Linked DNA regions of Homo sapiens. The protein of the gene in region 1 interacts with the protein of each later gene in a pairwise test. Each region holds a gene or a part of one and is shown in the gene's direction. Other genes may lie near its edges.

What was found.
Region 2: the proteins of CGB3 (region 1) and SMCP interact in binary tests that used the Homo sapiens proteins (3 or more experiments, as listed by UniProt).

The regions. Positions count from the first base shown.
Region 1 is NC_000019.10:49,022,342-49,028,404, reverse strand, and holds CGB3 (choriogonadotropin subunit beta 3 precursor), read left to right. Parts: upstream 1-4,071; 5' UTR 4,072-4,433; coding exon 4,434-4,448; intron 4,449-4,801; coding exon 4,802-4,969; intron 4,970-5,204; coding exon 5,205-5,519; 3' UTR 5,520-5,536; downstream 5,537-6,063. UniProt on the Homo sapiens protein: Beta subunit of the human chorionic gonadotropin (hCG). hCG is a complex glycoprotein composed of two glycosylated subunits alpha and beta which are non-covalently associated.
Region 2 is NC_000001.11:152,881,319-152,885,582, forward strand, and holds the end of SMCP (sperm mitochondrial-associated cysteine-rich protein), read left to right. Parts: intron 1-3,084; 5' UTR 3,085-3,104; coding exon 3,105-3,455; 3' UTR 3,456-3,729; downstream 3,730-4,264. UniProt on the Homo sapiens protein: Involved in sperm motility. Its absence is associated with genetic background dependent male infertility. Infertility may be due to reduced sperm motility in the female reproductive tract and inability to penetrate the oocyte zona pellucida.

The DNA.
Region 1 (6,063 bases):
CCAGAACCACAGGCTTCCAGAATGTTGTAGGGAAACTGCAAAATCCGCGCCTCCACCAGCCTCTCCCAGCGCCAGGTCAATTTCACACACAGGGAAACTGAAGCCTGCCTCAGAGGGGCAGCGTTTTACCTCCTTAGTGGCAGTTTTGAGGTGAATCGGGGTCTCCCTAGGATTCCAGGTTGTGCACTTTCTCTAAATTGTGGAATGTGGCCAGGCGTGGTGGCTTGAGTCTGTAGTCCCAGCTACTCAGGAGCCACAGCAGGAGGATGGCTTGAGCCCAGGAGTTCAAGTGCAGTGGGGAAACATAGGGAGACCTCGTCTTAAAGCAATTTGTTTGGGGCCAGGCGTGGTTTCTCAGGCCTATAATCCCAGCACTCTGGGAGGCCAGGGCAGGAGTATCACTGGAGGTTGGGAGTTTGAGACCAGTCTGGCCAATGTTGTGAAACTGCATCTCTACTAAAAATACAAAAATTAGCAGGGCACGGTGGCAGGCGCTTGTAATTCCAGTTACTCAGAAGGCTGAGGCAGGAGAGTCACTTGAACCCAGGAGGCAGGCGCTACAGTGAGCCAGGATTGTGCCACTGTACTCCAGCCTGGCCAGACAGAGTGAGGCTCTGTCTCAAAAAAAAAAAAAAAAAAATTGGGCCGGGTGCAGTGGCTCATGCCTGTAATCCCAGCACTTTGGGAGGCCGAGGCAGGCAGATCACAAGGTCAGGAGATCAAGACCATCCTGGCTAACACGGGGAAACCCCGTCTCTACTAAAAAATACAACAAATTAGCCAGGCATAGTGGTGGGTGCCTGTAGTCCCAGCTACTCGGGAGGCTGAGGCAGGAGAGTGGTGTAAACCCGGGAGGTGGACCTGCAGTTAGCCGAGATCGCGCCACTGCAGTCCAGCCTGGGCGACAAGTGAGACACCCCCTCAAAAAAAAATTGATTGGAACATCCTCCAGGGTGCAAGACCCTCGGTTCCTCAGAGTTCTACAGGAAGGATAGCAGAGTGCAGTTGCCCAGAGGTGAAGTCCCATCTCTGCCATTTGTTGGCTGTGTGACCAGGCACAAATCATTAATTTCTCTGAGCCTGTATTTTACCATCTGTTGCTATTGAGTAATAGTAGTTGAATATTTTCTACTTTTATTTTTATTTTATTTTTATTTTTATTTTTTTTGAGACGGAGTCTGGCCCTGTCACCTAGGCTGGAGTGCAGTGGCGCGCTCTCGGCTCACTACACCTCTGCTTCATGGGTCCAAGCGATTCTCCTGCCTCAGCCTCCTGAGTAGCTGGGAGTACAGGTGCGCACCACCATACCCAGCTAATTTTTGTGTTTTTTTTTTAGTAGAGACAGGGATTCACCATGTTGGCCAGGCTGGTCTCAAAGTCTTGACCTCAGGTGATGCACCCACCTCGGCCTCCCAAAGCGCTGGGATTGCAGGCGTGAACCACTGCACCCGGCCGAACATTTTTATCTTTATTTTATGATTATTATTATTATTTTTTTAAGATGGAGCTTTGTTTTTGTTGCCCAAGCTGAAGTGCAATGGCGCGATCTTGGCTCACTGCAACCTCTGCCTCCTGGGATCAAGTGATTCTCCTGCCTTAGCCTCCCAAGTAGCTGGGATTATAAGCATGCAGCACCACGCTGGAGGATATTTTGTATTTTTAGTAGAGGTGCGGTTTCTCTATGTTGGTCAGGCTGGTCTGGAACTCCTCACCTCAGCTGATCCACCCACTGCAGCCTCCGACAATGCTGGCATTACAAGTGTGAGCCACCATGCCCGGCCTTATTTTTATTTTTATTTTTTTTGTGAGACAGAGTCTCACTCTGTTGTCCAGGCGGAAGTGCAGTGGCACCATCTTGGCTCACTGCAATCTCGGCCTCCCGGGTTCAAGCGATTCTCCTGCCTCAGCCTCCTGAGTAGCTGAGACCACAGGCGTGCAGCACCAGGCCTGGCTAATTTTGGTATTATCAGTAGAGATGTTGTTTCACAGTGTTGGCCAGGCTGCTCTCGAACTCCTGACCTCAAGTCATCCACCCGCCTCAGCCTCCCAAAGTGCTGGGATTACAGGTGTGAGCCATAGTGCCTGACCTGTAGTTGTTGAATATTTATTATTAATCTACAAGTTGGGTGTGATGCAAGTCCTATATATGGAGTCCCCCAAACTTCTAGAGCAAGGGCTTCCCCATAATCCTGGCAGGCAGGCCTCCCCTGGGGTTTCCAACTTCTGACCCCACTGAAGTGTTTATCCTCTTCTCTAATCCCAGCCTCCTTTTCCCTGTCTCCATGTGCTCTGAGAGATGCTCTGAGAGATGCTCCCACTCCCCCAGGCTCCCTCCGCATCCCCCTCATTTTCCTCCTCCCCAGTGTGTCAATGGAGTCCTAACCCCATCCTCGACATTGTCGCCTTTTCCTCCTCCAGAGTGGGACCTTCTTTTCCCCCGAGTGGTCCTGTCTAGGGGTGCCGCTGCCGGGCCCCCTCTGGTCTTCCTGCTGGAGACTGGAGCCTTTCGGGAGTCAGCAGGCGCCCGGGCCAACCGCAGCCAGCGAGGGGTGAGCGATACTTCACCGGCGAGTCATCAGGGTGAGCTGGCCGTGTGCGATGCAGTCAGTGTCTGGGTGACAGACCCCTGGACTGCTGTGGACTTGGGTGTGCTCGAGGTGGAGGTGTTGGGCGAGGTGCCTGCAGCTGTCGGCAGTTCCCTCCGCCAGCACTTCTTTGTTGCCCACTTCGAGGCCGATAAATCTGAGGAAGGTGGCCCGGGGGTAGGTGGAGGGGGCTGCCGCCGGGGTGTGGACCGGGGGGCACTGGGTGTCTGAGTGCAAGGCCAAGCAGTCCTATGTGCGGGCATTGACCGCTGATGCCCAGGGCCGTGTGGACTGGCGATGGATTCAAACTGGCACAGCCTGTGTCTGCACACTCCTCAGCCGGACTGGCCGGGCCTGAGACTTATACCCAGGAACTGGTCAGGCAGAAAAAGAACAGAGCTGGATGCTGAGAGACCTCAGGGTTGGCCCAGCTGCTCTACGGACGGACCCCAGTTGGGGAACTCATCAAATCATCACAAAATCACAACTCTCTGAATTTGAGCTCAATCTCTGCAGGATGGGTGCCACCACATGTGGTTTTGAAGGTTGAATAGGAGCTCTCCCAGGGGAACTTGAGGGTAATCATGATGATGATGATGATGATGATAATAATAATAGCCACTATTTACTGAGTGTTTACTCTTTCGTAGCCCTAATACATAACTCCTCGGATCAACTCTCATGGATTTGATCATTGGTGACCTTTGGTGTTAAGTTGCTGACTGCTCAGTCACAGAGGACACCACCTTGCTCATCCTGGGGAGTGGGAGGGCACATTTCACGATGTGCATGGGGGAGGAGGGAAACTGGAACATGCAAGCAGATGGCCAGGGGACCTTGAGGACATGGTCTACAGAAGGCCTTTAAGTATCTGGGAGCTGGGGTTCAAATGAGAAATCTTACTTGGTGAGAGCAGGCAGGGGTTGGCTTAGAATATTCTGTTTTGAGATAAAGAGCTACCGATCACACGGGGAGTATAAGCAAGGTTCAATGAGAAGTGATCAGGATGCTGGAGAGTTCAGCCCTGGGCGGGGAGCTCAAGTCAGGTTTCTAGCCCTCTTCCCTGTGCCAACCTATACCCTACATTGGGAAAGAAACAGACCTTAAAATTGTCCAGCTTGATGGCATCGCGGGGAAGGGACTAAGTCCAGATAATGTCCTCCGAGGCTTCGGCCCCATGGGCAGGACACACCTCCTGCGGGCCTATTCAATAATCAGTTAAATCACCTGAAGCACACGCATTTCCGGGGACAGCTCCGGGCATCCTGGCTTGAGGGTAGGGTGGGCGGAGGTCCCTAAGGGAGAGGTGGGGCTCGGGCTGAATCCCTCGTTGGCGGCACCAGGGTCAAGTGGCTTCCCTGGCAGCACAGTCACGGGGAGGCCCTCTCTCATTGGGCAGAAACTAAGTCCGAAGCCGCGCCCCTCCTGGGAGGTTGGACTGTGGTGCAGGAAAGCCTCAAGTAGAGGAGGGTTGAGGCTTCAGTCCAGCACCTTTCTCGGGTCACGGCCTCCTCCTGGCTCCCAGGACCCCACCATAGGCAGAGGCAGGCCTTCCTACACCCTACTCCCTGTGCCTCCAGCCTCGACTAGTCCCTAGCACTCGACGACTGAGTCTCTGAGGTCACTTCACCGTGGTCTCCGCCTCACCCTTGGCGCTGGACCAGTGAGAGGAGAGGGCTGGGGCGCTCCGCTGAGCCACTCCTGCGCCCCCCTGGCCTTGTCTACCTCTTGCCCCCCGAGGGGTTAGTGTCGAGCTCACCCCAGCATCCTATCACCTCCTGGTGGCCTTGCCGCCCCCACAACCCCGAGGTATAAAGCCAGGTACACGAGGCAGGGGACGCACCAAGGATGGAGATGTTCCAGGTAAGACTGCAGGGCCCCTGGGCACCTTCCACCTCCTTCCAGGCAATCACTGGCATGAGAAGGGGTCAGACCAGTGTGAGCTGTGGAAGGAGGCCTCTTTCTGGAGGAGCGTGACCCCCAGTAAGCTTCAGGTGGGGCATTTCCTGAAGGTGCGGATCTGAAATGTTGGGGTATCTCAGGTCCTCTGGGCTGTGGGGTGGGCTCTGAAAGGCAGGTGTCCGGGTGGTGGGTCCTGAATAGGAGATGCCGGGAAGGGTCTCTGGGTCTTTGTGGGTGGTGTACCACGCGGGATGGGAAGGCCAGGACTCGGGGCTGCGGTCTCAGACCCGGGTGAAGCAGTGTCCTTGTCCCAGGGGCTGCTGCTGTTGCTGCTGCTGAGCATGGGCGGGACATGGGCATCCAAGGAGCCGCTTCGGCCACGGTGCCGCCCCATCAATGCCACCCTGGCTGTGGAGAAGGAGGGCTGCCCCGTGTGCATCACCGTCAACACCACCATCTGTGCCGGCTACTGCCCCACCATGGTGAGCTGCCCGGGGCCGGGGCAGGTGCTGCCACCTCAGGGCCAGACCCACAGAGGCAGCGGGGGAGGAAGGGTGGTCTGCCTCTCTGGTCAGGGGCTGCGGAATGGGGTGTGGGAGGGCAGGAACAGAGGGCTTCCTGGACCCCTGAGTCTGAGACCTGTGGGGGCAGCTGGGGAGCTCAGCTGAGGCGCTGGCCCCAGGCACATGCTCATTCCCCCACTCACACGGCTTCCAGACCCGCGTGCTGCAGGGGGTCCTGCCGGCCCTGCCTCAGGTGGTGTGCAACTACCGCGATGTGCGCTTCGAGTCCATCCGGCTCCCTGGCTGCCCGCGCGGCGTGAACCCCGTGGTCTCCTACGCCGTGGCTCTCAGCTGTCAATGTGCACTCTGCCGCCGCAGCACCACTGACTGCGGGGGTCCCAAGGACCACCCCTTGACCTGTGATGACCCCCGCTTCCAGGACTCCTCTTCCTCAAAGGCCCCTCCCCCCAGCCTTCCAAGCCCATCCCGACTCCCGGGGCCCTCGGACACCCCGATCCTCCCACAATAAAGGCTTCTCAATCCGCACTCTGGAGGTGTCTTTCTGTGGGCTCAGGGCAACCACACACACACAGGATGGGTCCAGCTTCCAAACCATTTTATACAGAGTCACAGTATGAGAACTCTGGTAGAAAACAGTGTGGGGTCGGGGGATGACATCGCAACTTTACTCTACATTGGGAAAGAAACAGACCTTAAAATTTTCCAGCTTGATGGCCAGGTGCGATGGCTGATGCCTGTAATCCCAGCACTTTGAGAGGCCAAGACAGGCGAATCACCTGAGGTTAGGAGTTCAAGACCAGCCTGGTTAACATGGTGAAACCCCGTCTCTACTAAAATTACATAAAGAAATTAGCTGGGCGTGTAGGCGGGTGCCTGTAATCCCAGCTACTCTGGAGGGTGAGGCAGGAGAATCGCTTGAACCCGGGAGGCGGAGGTTGCAGTGAGCGGAGACTGTGCCATTGCACTCCAGCCTGGGCAAAAAGAGGGAAAGTCCGTCTCAAAAAAAAAAAAAAATTGTCCAGTTTGAGTGGGACATGAGGTTCTGACTAACT
Region 2 (4,264 bases), on another chromosome or scaffold:
CCTGCACACCTTCAGGAGAGGATGATACAGATTTTTGTCCTACTGGGGTGGATTAGTCCATTTCCACACTGCTATAAAGATACTACCCGGCCGGGCGCGGTGGCTCACGCCTGTAATCCCAGCACTTTGGGAGGCCGAGGCGGGTGGATCATGAGGTCAGGAGATCGAGACCATCCTGGCTAACAAGGTGAAACCCCGTCTCTACTAAAAATACAAAAAATTAGCCGGGCGTGGTGGCGGGCGCCTGTAGTCCCAGCTACTCGGGAGGCTGAGGCAGGAGAATGGCGTGAACCCGGGAAGCGGAGCTTGCAGTGAGCCGAGATTGCGCCACTGCAGTCCGCAGTCCGGCCTGGGCGACAGAGCGAGACTCCGTCTCAAAAAAAAAAAAAAAAAAAGATACTACCCAAGACTGGATAATTTATAAAGGAAAGAAGTTTAATCGATTCACAGTTCCACATGTCTGAGAAGGCCTCAGGAAACACAATCATGGCAGAAGGCAAAGGGGAAGGACCTTCTTCACATAGTGGTGGGAGAGAGAAGTAAGAACAGGGGAAATGTCAGATGCTTATAAAACCATCAGATTTTGTGAGGTACATACACAGAGCCAAACCATATCATGGGGTAACCCCCAGAAATTATTTTATTTTATTTTATTTTACTTTATTTTATTTTTTGAGATGGAGTTTTGCTCTTCTTGCCAAGGCTGGAGTGCAATGGCACGATCTCAGCTCACTGTAACCTCCACCTCCTGGGTTCAAGCGATTCTCCTGCCTCAGTCTCCCAAGTATCTGGGATTACAGGCACCTGCCACCATGCCCATTTTTCTATTTTTTGTAGAGACAGGGTTTCACCATGTTGGCCAGGCTGGTTCTGAACCCCCGACCTCAGGTGATCCACCTGCCTCGACCTCCCAAAGTGCTGGGATTACAGACGTGAGCCACTGTGTCCGGCCCTCCCCCAGAAAGACTTTAATGTGAGGAGAGATTTGTAGCTACTGTCCCCAGGAGTCCCTTTATCTACAGGACACAAAAGAAGAGGACAAGACAAGAGATGTGGCTTTCTAAACATCAGGGAGAGTGTTTGGAGCAGGGCTGTGGGGAAGCAGCCTGACAGCAGGTCAGGATAGGATAGAGGGCAAGTAGGGAGCACCCAGCAGGAGAGAGAAGGCCAGGACAGAGGCTGGCCCCTACTAGGAGCTATTCACACTGGCTCTAACTGTAAAGACTCATGAGAAAGTTCAAGCAATCTCAATTTGTTAAACAGCCATCATCACAAACCTCAAGTTCTTCTCTCCATGTACCTATAATTATGCATGGACACATGCCTACATGCACTTAGGTGCACACACACACACACACACACACTCTCACAGAGATATGGGCATGTGTGTGCTTAGTGGAAAGCCCACAGCAGTAACTGGCTCAGTTTAAAAAACAAGTTTGGGGGCTGGGACATTGGCTCACGCCTGTAATCCCAGCACTTTGAGAGGCTGAGGTGGTCAGATCACCAGAGGTCAGGAGTTCGAGACCAGCCTGGCTAACATGGCAAAACCCCATCTCTACTAAAAATACAAAAATTTGCTGGGCGTGGTGGTAGGCATCTGTAATCTCAGGTACTCCGGAGGCCGAGGCAGGAGAATCGCTTGAACCTGGGAGGCAGAGGTTGCAGTGAGCTGAGATCGCACCATTGCACTCCAGCCTGGGTGACAAGAGCGAAGCTCCATCTCAAAAAAACAAAAACAAAAACAAAGAACCACTAATTTGGGCCAGAGGCTTTTCTCACAATCCCAAGGATGCCAGAGGCTGGAAGGTGGTTGCCACCTCACCTCAGCAGTTGTCACTCCAAATCCCACACCCATCCTACCCTACCAGTGACAGGGCTCTGACAGGCCTGGCACCTCCCTGACATGGGTTTGTGGCTTTGTGAGCTGAGTCCACAGAGGGGGTACAGGCTCATTTCCCGTGCTTCTACATTTCCTTGAGGAGGCTAGATAACAACCTGCTCACTGTCTGCTGTTTCCTGGCCACTTCTAGACCCTCTATTCTGCTCTGGGACCACAACAGTGGCGTTCATCCTCTCATCATGTGCCATAGGAGGGACCAGGGCGGAAACCATTAGGGGCTTCTCCAGGGGCTGCATACCTGGGCTGAGGCCCAGGGACGTTCCCAGAAGAGCTTGGACTTCCTGGGAGGAGGAAGATGGGTAGATAGAAGTAAAGCAAGAGTTGTTTGGATTTTCTCTATACCTGGAAGAATCAGGAAATGATAAAACTGCTGAGTGGTTGAGTTTGAGGACACCTACCAGGTCCAGTTCCCCCTTCCTCACCCCCACCACTGCCCCTTTATAGAGGAAGAGGTACAAGCCCAGAGAGATGAAGAGAACTGCACAATCCCTTAGGCTTGGGAGTTGCAGAACCAGGCCTGGAACTCAAGTCCTGCCATGCCAAGAGCACTGTACTTTTCATTTCATCTTGCTGTAACCACCACAGTGCTCCGTGCATGGGACAAAATGATGCATTCAGGAAGCGTGTGACAGTTGGTCACTCTAAGTGCAAGAGTTTCATTGCACCTGGGTCCATGGGTGCCACATTAGAGACAAGAACAAGCACATGCTCTGGAGTGGGATAGAGCTTGGCTTGAATCACTTACAAGCAACTGAGGTGGATTTTTGAACTTCAGTGGTCCTCATATGAAGTGAAGTGGACTAAAAATGTCTACCTCAGGCTGGTAGCCGTTATAACATTAGCTGATGTTTGTGAAGTGCCTGACACTTGACTCAGGATCTGGAGACTGAGGGTCAAACTGTTTGCTCATTAGCTAAGGGACCTTATTCACATTGCTTACATATTCTGGTCTTTTGATTCTTTATCTGACAAATGACTACCTAGTAAGGAACAAACACACTGGCATATGCAAAGGTAGAATTATGGGGCTGGCTGGCCTCTCTGAGGGATCCAGCTCTGCTTTCTCAACCCTGGTCTGAGTCATTATCCTGAAGATGGATGTATTTGGGTGTCAAGAAAGGAGGAAATGAAAGCAGGCACCCAGATTTCCTTCTGATGAGAATATTATTTTCTTTTTCTAGTACCTCCAAGTGTTCAGAAGATGTGTGACCAGACAAAACACAGTAAATGCTGCCCAGCAAAAGGCAATCAATGCTGCCCACCACAGCAGAACCAGTGCTGCCAGTCAAAAGGCAATCAATGCTGCCCACCAAAACAGAACCAGTGCTGCCAGCCAAAAGGCAGTCAATGCTGCCCACCAAAACACAATCACTGCTGCCAGCCAAAACCCCCATGCTGCATTCAGGCCAGGTGCTGTGGTTTGGAGACCAAGCCTGAAGTCTCACCCCTTAACATGGAGTCTGAGCCCAACTCACCGCAAACTCAGGACAAGGGCTGTCAAACCCAGCAGCAGCCCCATAGCCCACAAAATGAGTCCAGGCCAAGCAAATGAGAGCAGAAGAAGTCAAACAAAGAAGAAGTCCCTGGGGCCATGCCTTTCACTTTGTAGGGTGGGGGATTACTGAGAGTCAGGCTAGACCTGTGTTTAGAGAAGCAGTTTTCACAGTGACTACCATTTCCACCCAATGAGAGGCTCCTATTTCCCATCATAGCTCCCTACCCTAGGGAGGCCTCCATCTGGAAATGGGAGGATGAAGAGGCTAGAATCATCTTTCCTAGTGATCCTGACATTTAGACAGCACAGAAATAAAGAGCAATAAAAAGAACATTGCCTCCGTTTGTTCCTTTACTTACTTGTGAAACCATCTCACCAGCCTGGCCTAGAGCCCAAGAAAATATTATGGGCATGTCCTGGAGGTCCAAGGAGCAAGAACTAGCATCCTGAAGAACAAAACCTCTGCTGAGCTGGAGTGTAGTTGACTGACTCATCTTGGTTTTAAAATGAAAGTCCTGCATTCCAGGAACCCCTTCAGTCCTTATTAAAAAAAAAAAAAGATTATTGGTCACTCAAAGTGCAAGAATCCTAATTCCTCTGGGTCCCTGGGTACCACATTGCACTCCAGACCAAGCAAAAATATGTAAGTCCCTTGGAGTGATTCCACCCCCGCATCCAGAAATTTTAGATGGAGGTAGAGTCCCCAGGACTCAGCAAAGCACAGTGGCTAGCGGCAAAGAGTGAAATCTTCCAGGATCAGCACTGGCTCCTCAGTCACAGAGTAGCAATCTTAAAGCAAGTGGTTCAGTGTTTCTGACACTCTATTTCCTCGTGTGTAAAATGAAGACAATGGTACTTCCCTCAAA